4 linked regions of the Homo sapiens genome follow. The protein of the gene in region 2 purifies or fractionates together with the protein of the main gene of each other region. This does not show direct contact. Each region holds a gene or a part of one and is shown on either strand. Other genes may lie near its edges.

The links. Proteins that work in one complex are often made in the same cells at the same time.
Region 1: the proteins of XPNPEP1 (region 2) and DMGDH fractionate together in Homo sapiens (co-fractionation; one large-scale study listed by BioGRID). This does not show direct contact.
Region 3: the proteins of XPNPEP1 (region 2) and PDE12 fractionate together in Homo sapiens (co-fractionation; one large-scale study listed by BioGRID). This does not show direct contact.
Region 4: the proteins of XPNPEP1 (region 2) and VGLL4 purify together in Homo sapiens (co-immunoprecipitation; one large-scale study listed by IntAct). This does not show direct contact.

Annotation. Positions count from the first base shown.
Region 1 is NC_000005.10:79,037,879-79,042,979, reverse strand, and holds part of DMGDH (dimethylglycine dehydrogenase, mitochondrial precursor), read left to right. Parts: intron 1-498; coding exon 499-697; intron 698-5,101. UniProt on the Homo sapiens protein: Catalyzes the demethylation of N,N-dimethylglycine to sarcosine. Also has activity with sarcosine in vitro.
Region 2 is NC_000010.11:109,915,928-109,921,028, forward strand, and holds part of XPNPEP1 (xaa-Pro aminopeptidase 1), read right to left. Parts: intron 1-5,101. UniProt on the Homo sapiens protein: Metalloaminopeptidase that catalyzes the removal of a penultimate prolyl residue from the N-termini of peptides, such as Arg-Pro-Pro. Contributes to the degradation of bradykinin.
Region 3 is NC_000003.12:57,558,469-57,563,569, reverse strand, and holds part of PDE12 (2',5'-phosphodiesterase 12 isoform 1 precursor), read right to left. Parts: intron 4,261-5,101; coding exon 4,182-4,260; coding exon of another isoform or gene 4,150-4,181; exon of another isoform or gene 4,009-4,149; coding exon 3,566-4,008; 3' UTR 1-3,565. UniProt on the Homo sapiens protein: Enzyme that cleaves 2',5'-phosphodiester bond linking adenosines of the 5'-triphosphorylated oligoadenylates, triphosphorylated oligoadenylates referred as 2-5A modulates the 2-5A system. Degrades triphosphorylated 2-5A to produce AMP and ATP.
Region 4 is NC_000003.12:11,566,620-11,571,720, reverse strand, and holds part of VGLL4 (transcription cofactor vestigial-like protein 4), read left to right. Parts: intron 1-2,922; exon of another isoform or gene 2,923-3,114; coding exon of another isoform or gene 3,115-3,116; intron 3,117-5,101. UniProt on the Homo sapiens protein: May act as a specific coactivator for the mammalian TEFs.

The sequences.
Region 1 (5,101 bases), on a different chromosome or scaffold from region 2:
CACCATTCCTTTCTTGCTGAAAGGAGAGTTAAAAGGGGTCTAAAATCCATCATCTTAGATCTTGGAGGAGTGTTCCACTTTTTCCAGTATTCTGCCATGACTTTGTAAACTCCCATTTGCCCTCATCTCAGGGGATGAAACAGGTTCTTATGGTTAATTGAAGCATAACGATCTTCTTGACAAACCAAATTATAGTTTTTTTTTAAAAAAAACTGATTGGATTAAATATCAGAAACTATATTATTCATACATTTAAATTTTATATTAATTAAAGGTTAACTTTTATGATTTTGTTTCAAGAACAATACCATTGTTTTCAGTAATATAAATGGATACTCATCTGTTGATAGGGAATATGAAATTTAGACTTTAACAAAAAATGGCAGTACTTTCCTAACAGGCCATCTTTAAATGTAGGCCATGTCAGAGGCTTAAATCACTTTACAGGACTTGTCAGCTCAGCTACGGCATCCTGACCACAAGGGCAAATCTTTTTAGGTTTTGGAAAGGAACTCTTTGAGTCTGATCTAGATCGAATCATGGAACACATCAAAGCTGCCATGGAAATGGTTCCTGTCTTGAAAAAGGCTGACATCATCAATGTTGTCAATGGTCCTATCACGTATTCTCCTGACATTCTGCCTATGGTGGGGCCCCATCAGGGGGTCAGAAACTACTGGGTGGCTATAGGCTTTGGGTAAGTATCTTCATGTAATTCAACATTTATTGTAGAATCACTTATTTTAGCTAAATCTAGTTCCATATTCTCAGGATGCAAAAGGGAAATGTGGGAGGCTGAGAGAGAGAGAAAGAGAAACAGAGAGAGACCCAGAGAGTTTTCTCCCTTTCATGACCAAGGATTCATACAATGAATAAAAAATACTGGTTCAATCACTTGTATATGTTTTAAAGAAGGGCAACTATTTCCTGGAACACAGAAGGGCAATGATTTCCTGGAGCTTTCTCTCTTTTATTTTTTCAGATGGAGTTTTGCTCTCGTTGCCCAGGCTAGAGTACAGTGGCGTGATCTTGACTCACTGCGACTTCTGCCTCCTGGGTTCAAGCGATTCTCCTGCCTCAGCCTCCTCAGTAGCTGGGATTATAGGCACCCGGCATCACGCCGGCTAATTTTTTGTAATTTTTTTTTAGTAGAGACAGGGTTTTACCATGTTGCCCAGGCTGGTCTCAAACTCCTGACCTCAGGCAATCTGCCCACCTCAGCCTCCCAAAGTGCTGGGATTACAGGTGTGAACCACCGCACCCGGCCTCCTGGAGCTTTCTCTTTGCATATTTCCTGCCATTTCTATTAACTGTTTCTGGTTTTATGCTGTGTATCTTCAGATAGTCAATTTGCCCCAGTTTTACAAGGATGTTTTCATAACACGATGTGACAAAGATAATTCAAAATATCAAATGTATAACATGTCTGCTGCATTTTTCACCATAATTCATGTTTGTCCAACATGATTTGTTTCTTTATAAGTCCTCAGGTTGCTTTCTATTTATGACTCCATTGCCTCTTTGATGTTTCATTTCTGATGTTTGTTCCATTAATTTGGTGAATATTGATGTCAAGCCCACTCAACTATCATATCACATCTTCTAATATTCTATTTTTCTTCCCCATTTTATTTGGCCATTTATTCAACTAATGTATAATAACTGCTAGCTCTGTGCCAGGCCTAGGGCTAGGCATTGGAATACAGCTGACAACAAAGCAGTGAGGTCTGATTGGAGCTGGAGGGCTGCCTGAGGCACAGCTCTGCTGATCCAATAGAGAAGCTGGGGTCTCTACCAAGGTAGCAGCAGTGAAGACTGAGAGATGGGAGATAAAATCATCTAGATTTGGTGATCAATTTCATAAGATATTGAAGGGAAAGAGAAAAATGGCAAATGATGGCAACCTTTCTAACTTGACCACCGTCTATATGTTGGAGACATGGAGAGAGAGACAAGAAAATAATGAGTTCCATTTTTGATGGGTTGGGCTTGAAGTGTTAAGTTTAGGTATGTGGGACATCCAGAGGGAGAAAGTCAGATGGAGATTTGGGATGGGAAGTTATAATGTAATTGAGGGTTTTATAGTCACCTATAGAGTCCATATGCAGGCATGTGGAAGTAGGAGTGCTTCTCCTGCACATCACTCATGTATCTTCTTTGGAGAAATGTCTATTCATATCCTTTGCCATTTTCATAATTGGGTAATTTGTCTTTTTATTGTTTAGCTATGGAAGTTCTTTATATATTCTAGATATAAGAACCTTATCAGGTACATGATTTGCAGAACTTTTCTCCCATTCTGTGGGTTGTTTTTTTACTTTCTTGATGGTGTCCATTGAAATACAAAACTTTTTAATTTTGATGAAGTCCAGAATATGTATTTTTCCTTGGTTCACATGTACTTTTGGTGTCATATACAAGTAACCATTGTCTAATCCAAGTTCGTGAAGATTTAAACCTATGTTTTCTTCTAAGAGTTTTATAGTTTTAGCTTTTGCATTTAGTTCTGTAATCAGTCATGAGTTAATTCTTGCATATGACGTGAGGTAGGTGTCCAACTTTAGTCTTTTCATATGTATAGCCAGTTGTCCCAGAACTATTCATTGAAAAGACTATTCTGTCCTCATTGAATTATGCTGGCATCTGTAATGTCTTTTTTCTGATTCCTTTTCTTACACCAAATGTGTGGTATTTTCCAGCACCAACAACCAATTCTCCAATTCTCTAGTACTAACTGGGTGTCCAACAATTCCATTCAATTCTGACACCAACTCCTGGAATTAACATAGACCCCACAGGTTAAGGGATCCGTTCCACAAGACTGCTCTCACTTCGGACAACAGTCTCAAGTCTCGGGAGACACCCATACTTCTGACCAACTGGGTGTTCCCACAACCCTCTCCTCAGATTTGATAATTTGCTAGAACCAATCACAAAACTCAGGAAAATACTTATGTTTACTCTTTTATTATAAAGGATTCAGCTCAGGAGTAGCCAAATGGAAGAGATACATAGGACAAAATGTGAGGGGTTAGGGGTGGGTGGGGCAGCACCACCAGGCCCTTTCCAGGTGCCTTCCTAGCCCATCACTGTGTTCACCAACCCAGAAGCTCTCTGAACCCCATGCCTAGGTCTTTATGGAGGTTTCATTGCATAGGCATGATTGATTACATTATTGGTGACTGCACTCAATATCTCTTCTCCACTCCCTGGAGGTTGGAGTAGGGAGTGAGACTGAAAGTTCTTTATTATTATTATTATTTATTATTATTATTATACTTTAAGTTTTAGGGTACATGTGCACAATGTGCAGGTTAGTTACATATGTATACATGTGCCTTGCTGGTGTGCTGCACCCATTAACTCGTCATTTAGCATTAGGTGTATCTCCTAATGTTATCCCTCCCCACTCCCCTGACCCCACAACAGTCCCCAGAGTGTGATGTTCCCCTTCCTGTGTCCATGTGTTCTCATTGTTCAATTCCGACCTACGAGTGAGAATATGTGGTGTTTGGTTTTTTGTCGTTGCGATAGTTTACTGAGAATGATGATTTCCAATTTCATCCATGTCCCTACAAAGGACATGAACTCATCATTTTTATGGCTGCATAGTATTCCATGGTGTATATGTGCCACATTTTCTTAATCCAGTCTATCATTGTTGCACATTTGGGTTGGTTCCAAGTCTTTGCTATTGTGAATAGTGCCACAATAAACATACGTGTGCATGTATCTTTATAGCAGCATGATTTATAGTCCTTTGGGTATATACCCAGTAATGGGATGGCTGGGTCAAATGGTATTTCTAGTTCTAGATCCCTGAGGAATCACCACACTGACTTCCACAATGGTTGAACTAGTTTATAGTCCCACCAACAGTGTAAAAGTGTTCCTATTTCTCCACATCCTCTCCAGCACCTGTTGTTTCCTGACTTTTTAATGATTGCCATTCTAACTGGTGTGAGATGGTATCTCATTGTGGTTTTGATTTGCATTTCTCTGATGGCCAGTGATGATGAGCATTTTTTCATGTGTCTTTTTGCTGCATAAATGTCTTCTTTTGAGAAGTGTCTGTTCACATCCTTCGCCCACTTTTTGATGGGGTTGTTTGTTTTTTTCTTGCAAATTTGTTTGAGTTCTTTGTAGATTCTGGATATTAGCCCTTTGTCAGATGAGTAGACTGAAAGTTCTAACTCTCTAATCACATGGTTGGTTTTTCTGGCTACCAGCCCCCATCCTGAAGCTACCTAGGACTGCTCTCCTCTCCACAAGAGTCATCTCATTAACATTCAAAAAATAGTAAATCTCAAATGTTTTATGAATTCTGTGTCAGGAACTGGGAATAAAGACCAAATATTTAATTTTTATTATACCACAGCATCTTTATAAAAAATAAATTGACCATAGATGTATGGGTTGATTTCTAGACTCTCAATTCTGTTCCTTCATCTGTGTCTATTCTTATGCGACTACTATACTGTCTTTTATTTATTTATTTATTTTTGAGACAGAGTCTTACTCTGCTGCCCAGGGAATGGCACGATCTTGTCTGACTGCAACCTCCACCTCCCGGGTTCAAGCAATTCTCTTGCTTCAGCCTCCCAAATAGCTGGGATTACAAGCACGCTCCACCATACCTGGATAATTTTTGTATTTTTAGTAGAGATGGGGTTTTCCCATTTTGGCCAGGCTGGTCTCAAACTCCTGACCTCAAGTGATCCACCCACCTCGACCCCCCAAAGTGCTGGGATTTCAGGTATCAGCCACCACACCCAGCTGACACTCTCTTAATTACTGTTACTAGAAGTTACTAGCTTTGTAGTAATTTCTGAAATCAGGAAGTATGAATCCTCCAACTTTGTTCTTTTTCAAAATTGTTTTGGCTGGAAGTCCCATAAATTTTAGGACTAGTTTGTCAATTTATGCAAAGAAGCCAGCTGAGATTTTGATAGAGATTGCATTGAATCTGTAGATCATTTTGGGGAGTATTGACATCTGAACAATATTAAGTATTCTGATCCATGAACATGAAATGTCTTTCCATTTACTTAGGTCTTTTAAAATGTCTTTGAACAATGATTTGTAGTTTTCAGAGTAAAAG
Region 2 (5,101 bases):
TTATTGAAAAATCTTCCATAATCCAGGCCCTATTCTGGACACAACAGTGAACAAAACAGACAAGATCTCTGACTTTAACAAATTAAGATGGGGCAAGGCAGGGGGATGGGCAGAAGACAGGGAAGAGAAGGCAACAGACACAAAACAAGTACACAATACGTCAAGTAATAAGAACGTGTTTTGTGAAAAAAAGTAAAGCACAGCAAGGGGAAGAAAGCATCAAGGAGGTAAGGGGAAGGATTATTTCATATGGGGTAGCCAGGGACAGCCTCTATTATAACAGACAACATTTTAACACAGACCTAAAAAGAGTGAGGAAGCAAGCCATGTGAACGGCTAGGGGAACAATGTTCCAGGACAACAGCAAGTGCAAAGGCCATGAGGCAGGAGTATGTCTAGTTTACCTGAGGAAAAGCAAGAAGGTCAGCGCAGTGTGATTGTATCAGGGGATGGGGAGGTAAGTGGTTCAGAGACAACATCATTGAGGCACCAGGGGGCCTACTGTGGGGCCATAGAAAAGGTTTTGAATTTTACTCAGCTATGAACTCAATTAAGTTATAATTTAACCGCATTTTTACATGTTGGTAAAGACAGAGAGGGACACATTAGCTCAGTCTACCACACGGTAAGAACCAGATAACCAGGCAGCTTTACCAATGACTCTAGGCCTGCTTTCATATGGCTGTGACTTTAGTTTTACTGGACAGAATGGGATGTTCTTAACGAGAGTAAACATATTATTCTTTCATAAAAAAGTAAGACACCCCAATATGTCTTCTAAAATATAAATACAAATATCCTCAACAAAATACCAGCAAACGGAATCTAGAACAATATAAAAAGGATCATCATCGCCAAGTGGGTCTTATCCCAGGAATACAAGGTTGGCTCAATATATGAAAAATCAATTATTATAACAGGCCATATCAATAGAATAAAGAACAAAATCTACATGGTCTTCTCAACAAACGCAGAAAAAGCACGACAAAATCCAATGCCCCTTCAAGTTAAAAGTACTCAGCAAACTAGAAGAAAAATTCCTCAACCTGACAAAAGTTATTACAAAACCTACAGCTAACATCATTCTTAATGCTGAAAGACTGAATGCTTTCCCCTATAATCTAGGGAATGTCTACTCTTGGCAGAGTAGACAGGGATGTCTACTCTTGGCATTTCTATTCAACATTGTACCAGAAGTTCTATCTAGGGTAAGTAGGCAAGAAAATGAAACAAAAGGCATCCAGTTTAGAAAAGAAGAAGTAAAACTATCTCTATTTGCAATTGACATAATCTTGAATACAGAAAATCCTAAAGAATCCACAAACAAAATTAGAACTAATAACTGAGTTCATCAAGAATGCAGGATACAAAAATCAATATTTAAAAAATCAATTTGACTTCTATATCCTTGTAATGAGCAATTCAAAAATAAAATTAAGAAAAGTCCATTTACAATATCAAAAACAAAAAATAGTTAGAAATAAATTTAACAAAAGAAGTGCAAAATGTACACCACAAAAACTAAAAAAGACTGCTGAAAGTAACTGAAGAAGACCTAAATAAACAAAAGCTATTCCATGGTCATGGATTGGAAGGTTTACTATTGGTAAGATGGCAGTAATTCCCAAATTGATCTATGGACTCAATGCATTCCCTGCCAAAATTCTAGCTAGCTTGGAGGTTGAAACTGACAAGCAGATTCTAAAATTCATATGGAAATGCAAGGGACCCAGAATAGCCAAAACAATCTTGAAAAAGAACAAAATCTTGAAAAGAACTCTTCCATCCCAATTTCAAACCTAAATACAAGACAGTGTGGTGCTAGCATAAGAATGGACTTACAAATGAGTAAAACAGAATTAACAGTCCAGAAATAAACCCTCACAACTGTCAACTGATTTTTGAGGATGCCAAAACCATTCAATGGGGAAGGAATAGTCTCTTCCACAAATGGTGCTGGGACAAGTGAATATCCACATGCAAAAGAATAAAGTTTCCAACATGGCAAAACTCCGTTTCTACAAAAAATACAAAAATTAGTCAGGCATGGTGGTGTGCACCTGTAGTCTCAGCTACTCTGGAGGCTGAGGTGGGGTGGATCACTTGAGCCCTGGAGGTCAAGGCTGCAGTGAGCCATGATAGCACCACTGCACTCCAGCTTGGGTTACAGAGCAAGACCCTGCCTCAAAAAAAAAAACAAAAAAACAAAAAAGCCCAGGCACAATGACTCACATCTGTAATCCCAGCACTTTGGGAGGCCAAGGCAGGCAGACTGCCTGAGTCCCAGGGTTCGAGACTAGCTTGGGCAACATGGCAAAACCCATCTCTACAAAATTTACAAAAATGAGCCAGGTTTGGTGGTGCACACCTGTGGTCCCAGCTACTTAGGAGGCTGAGGCAGGAGGATCGCTTAAGCCAGAGAGGTTGAGGCAGCAGTGAGCTGTGATCGCCCCACTGCAGTCTAGCCTTGGTGACACAGAGAGACCCTGTCTCAAAAAAAGAAAAATGAAGTTTAACCCACTTCATATCATATTCAAAAATTAACACAAATGGGCCGGGCACGGTGGCTCACGCCTGTAATCCCAGCACTTTGGGAGGCCGAGGTGGGCAGATCACGAGGTCAGGAGATCCAGACCATCCTGGCTAACACGGTGAAACCCTGTCTCTACTAAAAATACAAAAAATTAGCCAGGCATGGTGGCGGGCGCATGTAGTCCCAGCTACTCGGAAGGCTGAGGCAGGAGAATGGTGTGAACCCAGGAGGGGGAGCTTGCAGTGAGCTGAGATCGGGCCACTGCACTCCAGCCTGGGCGACAGAGCAAGAGAAAAGGAAAGAAAGAAAGGAAGACAGGAAGGAAGGAGAGGAAGGAGAGGAAGGAAAGGAAAGAAAGGAAAGAAAGGAAAGGAGGAAGGAAGGAAGGAAGGAAGGAGGGAAGGAAGGAAGGAAGGAAGGAAGGAAGGAAGGAAGGAAGGAAGGAAGGAAGGAAGGAGAGAGAGAAAAAAGAAAAAGAACGAAAAGGAAGGAAAGGAAGGAAAGAAAAGAAAGAAAGAAAATAAAAAAAAATTAACCCAAATGGATCACAGGTATGAACGTAGGCGCTAAACTGTAAAACTCTTATAGCGCAACCATAAGTCTGCCTGACCTTGGATTAGGCAATGACTTCTTTAGACACAAATCAAAAAGCACAGCAACAAAAGAAAAAAGAGATACACTGGACTTCATCAGAATTTAAAATGTTTGTGTTTCAAAGGATACCATCAAGAAAATGGATGACAACCCACAGAATGGGAGAAAACATCTGTAAATCTGTTGAGTCTAGTATCCAGAATATATAAAGAACTATTATAACTCAACAATAAAAAGACATATAACCCAATTTTAAATGGGCTAAGGATCTGAATAGACATTTCTCCAGCAAAAGTACACAAATGACCAAGAAGTACATGAAAAGATGCTCATCATTAGTCATTAGGGAAACACAAATCGAAACCACAATGTGATACCACTTCACACCCACTAGGAAGGTTATAATAAAAAAGATTGACAGTAACAAGTGCGGGTGAGGGTATAGAAAAAATTAGAACCCTCAAACATTCCTGATGAGAATGTAAAATGGTGTAATGGCTTTGGAAAACCATTCCTAGGTACACAATCAAGAAAATTGAAAATATATATCCTTATAAAAAGTTGTACACAAATATTCACAGCTGCATTATTTGTAACAGCCAAACTGTAGGAACAACTCAAATGCCCAACTGATAAATGGATAAATAAAAGTGTCTATCCATATAATGGAATGTTCTTTGCCAATAAAGGGAAATCACGCCAGGCGCGGTAGCTCACGCCTGTAATCCCAGCACTTTGGGAGGCTGAGACGGGCAGATCATGAGGTCAAGAGATAGAGACCATCCTGGCCAACATGGTGAAACCCCATCTCTACTGAAAATACAAAAATTAGCTGGGTGTGGTGGTGCACACCTGTAGTCCCAGCTACTCAGGAGGCTGAGGCAGGAGAATCACTTGAACCCGGGAGGTGGAGGCTGCAGTGAGCCAAGATCGTGCCACTGCACTCCAGCCTGGCAACAGAGCAAGACTCCGTCTCATTTAAAAAAAAAAAAAGAAAGAAAAGAAAGAAATCACACCTATGACATAGGTGAACCTTGAAAACATGCTAAGGGAAAAAGCCTAATACAAAAGACCACATAGTATATGATTCTATTCACATAAAATGTCCAGAATAGGCAAATCGGTAAAGACAGGAAGTAGACATGCAGTGTTGGTGGTTGCCAAGGGCTGAGGTGAGGAGTGACTGATTACAGGTAACAGGATTTCTTTCGGGGATGAAGAAAATGTTCTAAAATGATTGTGATGATAGTTGTACAACTCTGTGACTATACTAATAACTTGAATTGTACATTTTAACAGATGAATTGTATATAAGTGAATTATATCTCAATAAAGCCATTATAAATTTTATAACATCTCTTTCTTGTGGACAGGGATACAAGTCAGATTCTCACCGAATTTCCCATTACTTCATACGTAAGTTTCTAAGATGGTAAGTAACTGATCCCAATGACTGGTTCAGACACATGACTACAGAGGTGGAAGGTTATCATTTTTTTAGAGACAGGGTCTTGCTGTGTCACTCAGGCTGGAGTGCAGTGGCACAATCTTAGCTTATGGCAGCCTCAAACTCCTAAGCTCAAGCAATTCTCCTGCCTCAATCTCCCAAGGACCTAGGACTACAGGTATGTGCCATCACACCAACCTGATTTTTTTTTTTTAATAATTTTCTGAAGAGACAGGATCTCACCACATTGCCCAGTCTGGTCTCAAACTCCTGGCCTCAAGTGATCCTCCCACCTCAGCCTCCCAAAGTGCTGGGACTATAGGTGTGAGCCACCGTGCCTAGCCAAGGTTACCTTAAGGTAATCCTATTCATTCATTTTACAGAATAAAAAAACAAAGATAACTTACCATAGGCCATATAACTCAGTAGCCGCAAAGCCAAGACCAGAAACTAGGTCTGACAGGTGAGCTCAAACTCTCTGTGTGAGCATCAACACCTCCACCTTTCTGTCAGGATCACAGGAGCTA
Region 3 (5,101 bases), on a different chromosome or scaffold from region 2:
CAAATTATTAAAATTCTCAAAACACTGAAATATTTTTTATTTGTGTTTAAAAAATTCATTTTCAGGGCTGGGGGAGGGATAGCATTAGGAGAAATACCTAATGTAAATGACGAGTTAACGGGTGCAGCAAACCAACATGGCACATGTATACCTATGTAACAAATCTGCACGTTGGGCACATGTACACTAGAACTTAAAGTATAATAATAAAAAAAGAAAAAAAGAAAGTTAGTTTTCAGTTATGGAAGGTTGGGCTTGTAATCTCAACTACTTGGGACGCTGAGGCAGGAGGATCATTTGAGCCCCGCAGTTTGAGGCTGTAGTAAGTTATGACTGCACCACTGCACTCCAGCCTGGGTAACAGTGAGACTCTATCTCTTAAAAAAATTATGCTGAGAATATTTTCTGAGTTGTCACATGGGTCTTGTGATAAACTAATAATGCAAACTTTTATTTTTCATTATATATAAATATTGGATTTATCCCAACCAAACTAGTTTGCAGGGAACCTCTGCCTTTATTTCACGGCTGGAGAATGAGATACAAAAGATGTCAATTTCCATCGTAAGAACTTTCCACAGTAGTGTTCTTTGGACATTCTCTCCCTTGTATTAGGCTCCTCAGAAATCTATCTCCAGACTGAAACCAGCACATTCTGATGAGATCATAGCTTAGTACTCAGAAAAATCACTACTCAGTGGAATTCTTGAAATTTTGAAACAACTGATTTTAGCATACAGAATTTCAAAAAGAACATACATTACAGCCAGAAACGATTGTTTGCTCATGAATTTTGATTATTGGCAGACACATTTGCTGTAGCGGCAACTGTGCAAGAGTTCATTTTAACAGAATAATATGTTCTGAAATACTCTTTTATAATCAATATAAAATTCTAGAATGTTAATTCCTATAGCAAGAACTTGTGACATTATAAAATGTGGTTTACCATAGAAAGTCGCTAGATTTCCCATGTTTTCTTAAAATTAAATGTACTAAAAAATCCAAATGTAATAGAAAAATGCAATCACATAGGTGCTTTAAACAGACATTTCTGAATAACACTGCATTCTAACTCATGAGTACAAAGAAATGTGTATGCTATTTATACATTTTCTTAGTGTTCCCTACCTTTGGACTCCAATCATTTTAACGTATCCGTATACTGGAGATTTGATCACAGTATATGGCACTTCACAATAACATTCCATGTCCTAATAATGTGAAATGCCTGTATACAATCTGAGTATATTGTTTAGTCAGAAAACATCAAAATTAAGGATATAGGACATGGAATGTCTGTTAAGTGCTGAGTTTTTCTGACTAGAGTTTAATCTAGCCAGTGTTAATGTGGAAGCTGTATGCTTTTTTCATGGGCATGTTCGAATTTTTTCTTTCAAAATGTTTCTCAACTTTTTGATGTGACACTTTGTTTTCTCCCAAGTCACTCTAAGGGTTCTATCAACATCTTTCTTTGAAAACAGCCCAAAAACATATTTTTAAAATGAAAAAAAAATTCACAAGAGAATCAAGATTTGGTTTTAATCTATTATTTACATATTTGTAAACTGCTGTTAAAATGCTCTCAAAAATGTTATTTAGGAAGGCACAATTTGGTAGCATCAATTTTTTATTTATAGTTTTTTCTAAACAAGATCCGAAGAAACTTCCACTTTAATTTTCCCCTTGGAGTACTTAAAGTACTTCAAGGTTCAATGTCAAATGCAGATAAAACCCCTTCATTTTCAAACTTACTAAGTGTTAACAATACATTTGATAGTGAGCAGAATATGAAAGTACAGATGTTATCAAAAGAGGAAATTCTTATGATACTAGGTTCAGAGATTAAAGAATTTGAAACAAGGGCTTTCATGACTGGGGAAAATCAAAGCTTTTCTTGAAGGGAGTGGGCTTTTAATACTCGAGCTATTAATTAAATGCAGAAATGAGATAACATAGTTATCCTGAACATCAAAAAAGCAACAGCTAATACAGCTAATGCATTATAAATAATGTATTTCATAACTGAATTAGTAAAGCATGGTTACCACTCTAGGCTAGACACTAATCAGTATAACCATTTGTAGTTTCTAATTTTAAAAAGTTTGGCTTCATATTTAAATTTCATTTTACTATATATATATTACATATATACACACTGTTGTCTGTAACTCAAACTATAATGCTTGTCTGTAAAAAGAAGTTTTTTATTTCAGAGATGCTTAAAAGTCCCACTACTCAACCTTTTTCCTGTTTATAAAAACCAACAATTTTGAAATTACTTCTAGTGTAGAAATGCTCAATGATTCATCCAAAATTTCAAGCCCATATCAGTAGGTAGTTTCTCATAAAGTAATGTGCTGTATTTTCTAATATCATATGGTCAAATACCCTGTTCATTTATGAACATTTTTCATGGGCAAGAGTAACTGAAGACAATGGGATCAAGTTGAATATGTTGCTACTCACTTTGAATACTAAATTGTGCTTGCATCCTAAAAATTAAAATGAGCTGCAGTAAGAATTAGAATATAAACTGTGTTCATTTGTACCATACACTAAAAACTAAAATCCTAAAAATAAGAATGAAAATACCTTACTTGTTCATTGAAAAATGAAAGATGAGAAGCAATAACAATTGGTGACGATTTATTTTTATCTTTTGTTAAAGCTCTGAAATTGTAGTAAATCGCTAACTAAATTGAGGTAGAGGTAGACCCTAATGTTACTCCTTCCATGTGTCAAGTCTCTCACCTTAGGTCTCTAAGGTCACCTATAACTTAAGTCTCTCACCCTTAACTTAAATACATTTTCCCTCTTAGTACATAAGCATGATTCATTTTGGAATGTGTTGTCATGAAAGAAAAATTAAGATCATTCAAATGGTACTTTAAAAATTCTGAACTCCTAGCTAAAAAAATTCTCTTATAAAAATGTACACAAGGGCCGGGTGCGGTGGCTCACGCCTGTAATCCCAACACTTTGGGAGGCCGAGGTGGGTGGATCACCTGAGGTCAGGAGTTCAAGACCAGCCTGGCCAACGTGGCGAAACCCCATTTCTACTAAAAATACAAAAATTAGCCAGACATGTTGGCGCACGCCTGTAATCCCAGCTACTCGGGAAGCTGAGGCAGGAGAATCGCTTAAACCCAGGGGGCGGAGGTTGCAGTGAGCCGAGATTGTGCCATTGCACTCCAGCCTGGGCAACAAGAGTGAAACTCCATCTCAAAAAAACAAAAACAAAAACAAAAACAAACAAACAAAAAACACGCTAATTCAATCTTCCTTTTCTGAGAGTCTCAATTTGGAGAAAAATAATTCAATTTTCTATTTTGCTAGTAAGAAATATATTTGTTTCTCCTCCAATTGTAGAGGAAAACAAGGAAAGAGAAGATGTATGATGCAAACATCAACAGTTTCATAACGAAGACATCAGGAACATAACTAGGAGGGCTGAACATTTTACCATTCCTCCTTGAAGTTTACATATAAGCTTTGATTCATATTAAATTTTCTGCTAAAATAACTACTTCCTTTTCAGACTTCAATTCCATTAAACACACATCTATTTCCATTTTAAATCACATACAAGTGCTATGTGATCAGAGGGATGGGAAACACTAGGTAAGGCCTGGTGGGTGGTAACTTCTTCATGACTAGGTAATGGAATCACCTGTTCAACCTCTAAAGCATTTAAGTCAATGAAAATGTAATCTAGACATCCATGAAAGCCACCAACATAATTTGTGTAAGCAGGTTCACCACAAGCACTTTTCAGCTTGAAGAAATGTGTAAGAGACATATTGCATCTTTCCTCCTCCCCATTGGAAGCCCAGTCTTCATGATCCTCTGGAATGCTGCCATTGATGACAAAATGATACATTCCTGTTGATGGTGTACTATTAAAGTCCCCACAAAATATAACTGGTATGCCAGGATACAGATCACATGAAACATGTCTTATGTGAGCCAAGGCTACTGCCATTTGAATGAGGCGAATATACCCACCTATGAATATAAAAAACATTAATGTAAGTATTTTTTAAAGTTGTCTTTAAGTTAAAAAAGAAAAACTACACAAATTACAGTCTCTGGGTGACGTTCAAGATATGCATTTGTGTAAAACACTTTAAACAACTTTAAGCGTGTTTAAGTCACTTGTGATACCAAATAAAACCTACCTTTAGGATGCCAGTAAAGATGGGTATTAGCAACACATATCCTTTTAGAAGAGTCCTTTGTAGACTGAAGAACTGAAACCTAAAATAAACGGAAAGTGCCAAGAGTTCAGTTGGCATTTGCAAATCTCCTGAATGTTTTTGTTTGTTTGTTTGTTTTTTTGAGTTTTTTCGAGACAGTCTCACTCTGTCAACCAGGCTGGAGTGCAGTAGCGCGATCTCGGCTCACTGCAAGCTCCGCCTCCCGGGTTCAAGCGATTCCCCTGCCTCTGCCTCCGGAGTAGCTGGGACTACAGGCGCGTGCCACCACGCCCGGCTAATTTTTTTGTATTTGTAGTAGAGACGGGGTTTCATCGTGTTAGCCAGGATGGTCTCGATTTCCTGACTTGTGATCCACCCGCCTCGGCCTCCCAAAGTGCTGGGATTACAGGCATAAGCCACCAGGCCCGGCCTGTTTTTTATCTAAGACTAATGGCGAACTAACGTTTTCTTCCATCTCCTTCCCTTGATGAACTAGGACTGCAGTCATGAAATCCAACTTAAAGTTTCAGGATCTACATGACTAGGTTCAGTGTAACATGTTTTAATAATAGTCCAATATAGGCCGGGCGTGGTGGCTCACGCCTGTAATCCCAGCACTTTGGGAGGCTGAGGCGGGCGGATCACGAGGTCAGGAGATCGAGACCATCCTGGCTAACATGGTGAAACCCCAAACCCCGTCTCTACTAAAAAAATTAGCCGGGCGTGGTGGCACGCGCCTCTAGTCCCAGCTACTAGGGAGGCTGAGGCAGGAGAATCGCTTGAACCCGGGAGGCGGAAGTTGCGGTGAGCCGATATCGCGCCACCGTACTCCAGCCTAGGTGACAGAGACTCCGTCTCAAAATAATAATAATAATAATAATAGTCCAATATATAAAGCTAGT
Region 4 (5,101 bases), on a different chromosome or scaffold from region 2:
ACCAGCAAAAAGAGGGACACTACCTTTGTGGGGAGTATTTTATTTTTATTTCCTGAGACAGGGTCTTACCCTGTTGCCCAGGCTGGAGTGCAGTGGCTCTGTCATGGCTCACTGTAGCCTTAACTTACTGGGCTCCAGCCATCCTCCTGAGTAGCTGGGATTACAGGCGCTACCATGCCCAGCTAATTTTTGTATTTTTTGTAGAGACGGGGTTTTGCCATGTTGCCCAGGCTGGTCTCGAACTCCTGGGCCTAAGCAGTCCACCTACGTTGGCCTCCCAAAGTGCTGGGATTACAGGCGTGAGTCACTGCACCTGGCCCCTTTATGGAGAGTTAATGGGGGAAACATTACGTGGGTGGATGGTTGTGGCAGTGATGCTGGCTGTGGCGGCATTCGCACTCGGGTTTCATTCCCTTGACTTTTTGGTGGCTTTTTTTCAATTATTAAGCAATGTTAAGCTATGGCAGTAGTTGCTGACGCATAGAAGGCAGAGACAGTCTCTGCCCTGTGTCCCTGCCAGCGAGGATGGACCCCGCTATTGAAGCCAGGAGCCTCAGGGTCATCTCTGTCTTTGGGACAGTCCGAATGCCGGTATTTTGCCAGCTTTTTCCTGCCCACGACACACTTCTTGCCATTTGTACTTAGGAGGGTGTCTCTGCCTCAGCCTCCGCCACCTCGGCAAACATCGTCTTCACCCAGGCCTTCCTTTGCAACCACTTCCCTCACTTCCCGTCTAAAATTGGCACAGAGGAGTGACGCAGCTTGACCAGGATGTCTTGGGGACACACCCAGGCACCTTGTTGCTCACTGGGAAGCAGTGAATTCTCCCACTCACAAGGGGAGAGAAGCCACGGTGATGAGTTCACTCCTGTGTGTGTGTTGTGGGGTGCTTTGGATGAGCTCGGGGACATTTAGAAGCAGGGAGGAGGTGAGGAGGACAACAGAAGTTGGAGGAAGGGACTAAAAGGGAGAAGACATCTCACCACTGTTTATGCCCAACATTTAAATGTTCCTTAAATTTTGCTTTTTCAGAAAAAAGTCTTTGCCACCAGTCATTTTCTCTGAAATCTCCTTAACTCCCTTGTCATTTGCCACAAACGCTGTTAACTGGACTCACACATACTATGTGTACCTTAATGATTTATTTACTCTATGGACAGTTATTAGAACATCTGGTATGTGGTCACCCGTGCGGAGCCAAGGAGATTAGGGCGTGGGGGCTGCAGTGTCAGCCTTCCCGGGAGTGCACGGTCCAGCCAGGGACCGGGGTCCCCTGGGAGCTGTGCTTCAGAAGCTTACTGACTGAGAAAGCCAGCGTGGCAGGACTGTCCGGGGACAGACCTTGGTGGCCGGCATCTCCGCACTGCTCCTTTCCTGTGTCTCTGCAGTTGGGGCAGGAAGGTGGGTGGAAATGGTGCTGGTGGGTCGGAAAGGCCTCCTGGCAGCTTGGGATGGAGCTGCGAGGTGATGGAGAGTCTCTTGGTGGGCCTGGTGTGACGACCCTGAGCGGCTGATGCCACAGGGCCGGTGTCTGTGGTGGGCAGCATGTCTAGGCAAAGCCTTCATCTTCTCCACCTTGGTCATCTCTTCTGTAAAACTGGGATGGTGCTGACCTGCCCTGTGCACATCAGAAACCCCAGGGGGCAGCAGGTAAAGGTTGGGAGGAAGTTCTGTCTATATTATTCAGGTAAAATTTTATTATTTAAAAAGCTGTAGTAAATTAGCAGAGCATACAGCTGACCACTTTAACCAGGTTTCAGGGCACCCTTCAGTGGCATTAAGTCTGTTTTCTGAGGAAGCTTTTTAAGATTAAAGATGTGCTAGCAATCTTATTTATTTAAAGACAGGGTCTTGCTCTGTCACCCAGGCTAAAGTGCAGTGGCGTGACCATGGCTCACTGTAGCCTCCACCTCCTGGGCCCAGGTGATCCTCCCACTTCAGCCTCCAAGTAGCTGGGACCACAGGTGCACGTCACCATGCCCAGCCAGCAGTCTCATTATGATGTGTTAAGACTGTGTGAACGACTGGCTGTCCTGCCAGTTCTCAGATGTCGGATTCTCCTGTAACTGCTGCGGTGGGAGAGAGAGGACGAAAGGGCTGGAGATGGGGCTGTGTCCCGGCCCACTCACTGGCCCTGTGCCGGCCCCTCCTCCTTTGAATCTCTTGTCTCCACCTGGACTCTGGTGCTTGGGGGATGTCTCTGCATAGCCTTCATTCTACTCCTGCCAGGCAACGCCTGGCATGGGGACGGGCTGCTTTGCCGCCTCAGGATGTTGGTTTTTGGGAGGCCAGGGCCCAAGGCTGCCCTGGGCCTCATCTCTTTCACTGGGTGGGAGCACCTGCCATGCCATGGTGCTCAGGGGCCTTTGGGGACCCCAGAATGTATCCTCAAAATGTCTTGTACCCATACCCCCTCCCCAGGCAGAGGAACTCAGACTCAGATCAGTGTAGCTTGTGGCAGTCCACGGTGAATGAAGCCCAGCGCAGGCTCAGAACGTCAGGTGATGGGGCTAAGGGCTAAGCATCCCAAAGCACGTTTGTTGGAGGGTGGGAAACTCATTTTAATGAGTATCAAATAGACGCAGTGCACTTCTTTCACGTGATGGATTCTTTCAATGTCACTGCTTGGAATCTGGTTTACTTTTCCCCAGATGTTATGGACATTCTTGGTTTCTTAGCTTAGAGAGCGTGTGGCTTTCAGTACTCAGAAAGCTCTGTCCTGGATGATGGTGTTGTAGGCCTCTCTTTCCCTCCCTCCTCTTTCCATCTTTCTCTCCGTGGGCAGCTGGCAGTGGAAGTGCCCGCCTAGGATGGGGATGAGGCCCGGGGCGGGGCCGGGTGCCGTGCAGCCTCAGCGGCTCTGATAGGCCTGGCACGGAGCCACTCAGAGTCCTTTGGGTGTTCGCGGGGATGCCGTGGGCTCTCTCGGGCACAGTCCTGACCAGGAGCGGAGGCGACTTCCATCTCCCGGGCAGGATGCGTGCGGTTTTCTGCCGTCCCCGGGAGCACATGACGCCTGGGAAGCAGTGGCCGGGAGGTGATTCATCCGGGCGAGCGGGGCCTGGAAAACAATGTCTGTCTTGAAGCTCCGGGAACCAGGAAAATGAGCTGGAAATGTGAGTAATGTATAATTTTACTAAAATTAACCAGCCAGTTCTCCAGGCCTTTTCTCGCTGTTTTCAGTGTCTTTGTCTGACCCATAGTGCCCACTGTGCTGTGTTCCACGGACTGTCTTTCCAGTTAGTGGGCCTGGAAGTCCCCTTCTCCCTGCTGCCCTGCGTAGGGTGGGCGCACAGTGGGGCTGTGGGAGCATAGATGGCAGATTTAGGTGCAGGGCTGCCCCGTCCTTACCTCTGCCCTGGCAGCTGGCGGCCCTGGCACCCCTTTCCTCTGTGATGTGGTCTCATAGTCATGCTTGGATTTCCTAAGGCGCAGCTGAGTCATCTGCGTGACTGTGCCGTGCCCCTAGGACATAAGGTGCGAGGGGTGGGCAGTGCCTTATGTACCACGACTTTGGCTTTGGACATGGGCAGACGCCTGACCTTTAGTCTGCTCCTCCATGCCACCCGGGGGTGTCTTTATCCTTGCCCGGATCCAGAGCTGTCACTTGGGAGCTGCAGCCCCTCCCGGGCCTTTCTGTCCCTGCTAGATTGTAAGCCCATGAGAAGGCAGGGCTGTAACCCTGCAGTTCTGGAACCTCCACAGAACAGGGACTTAACTAGCGCTGGTTGAGTAAACAGACGTCTAAATTCGGAGGCAGACTGTGTCTGAGGCTCTCCTGAATCTGGGACATGAGCCCCCAGGTCTATGCACTTCATGAAGTGGCCCGTGGAAGCATCACCTGGGGTGGAGAGAAGCCATTCACTCATGTTGTTAACAATAAAATTGTATCTTTATCTGAATTTAGAAGGGAGCGGGACACTGAAGATGAGGATGTGTGGTGACACTGATGAACTGAGTATTCAGGAACCAAGTCCCGTTTAGGTAGAAGCCAGCAGATCTCAGGACTGCTTGGCCTGACGTCCGTTCCGCGGAAGGTCTTCTGGTGACATCGGTGTCTGGGATCATAACCCTTGAGGCATTCATTGCAGAAACCTGTGCTGTCTTCTGAATCGCCACAGACAGATGACATTATGGACAGGCTGGTTTCAGTATTAAGGTTTTTAGTATTTTAACGTTTTGAAAATCGCCAGGATGTGTGTGGCGTGGATGGAACCTACTATCTAGACTCTGCCAGAACATTCTCTTCCATGATTGTCTTAATGGGCTGAACATTTAATCCTTAATTGCTTTTAAGATATTCTGTATCATCAGCCAGAAAATAAAGGGGAAGAAAAAAACCCCATAAACGAATACTGGGTCCTGTACAGCTAATCACCCTATAATCAATATACTCGGTTTAGGGCTGACAGGGTTCTCTTGGCGCTCACTGAGGGCTGCACTGCGCCGCTCTGATTGTTTTTGTTTGTGTGCTGTTTGTCCCCCATTTAGAGTCCTCTGGGTGGATCTTACTGTGACCACATGGTTACATGGGGACGCCGAGGCTCGGAACGCCTCGGGTCACTAAGCTGAGCGCGTGCCCCTGCTGGAGATGGCGCAGAATGACATCACAACATCACAGCCGAGGCTGCACTCAGGCCCCCTCTGGTGCTTCTCCTGCTCAGCCCTTAGCAGCTCACCGACTGGGCCGCAGGGTCCATCTAAAGGCTTGAATGCGCCTCCAGTTGACTCCTCAGCCCTCCAGCTCTCCATGATTCTGCCCACCCACAGTTCCACTCCACGATACCTGCCTTTCTTACACGGTCACCCATATGCTGCTTCTCTTCATTCACCCGTTAAGTCTCTGTGCACCCCTGGTAGCAAGCGTAATGAGACAGGAGGGACTCGACGCCCTCAGAGGCTGCCGTGTGTGAGGAGGGGCGGGTGCGTAGACGAAGAGATCATTGACGGTGGGGGATGGATTCTGTATTAAAGGTTTGCACGGGGCGCCTTGGGATTCTACACTGCAGCTGTGGTTGGCAGCGCAGGACGGGGAGGAGGGAGGCTAGAGCGGCACCGCGTGTACACAGCCACAGAGGCAGAGAGTGGCCGCATCTTATTT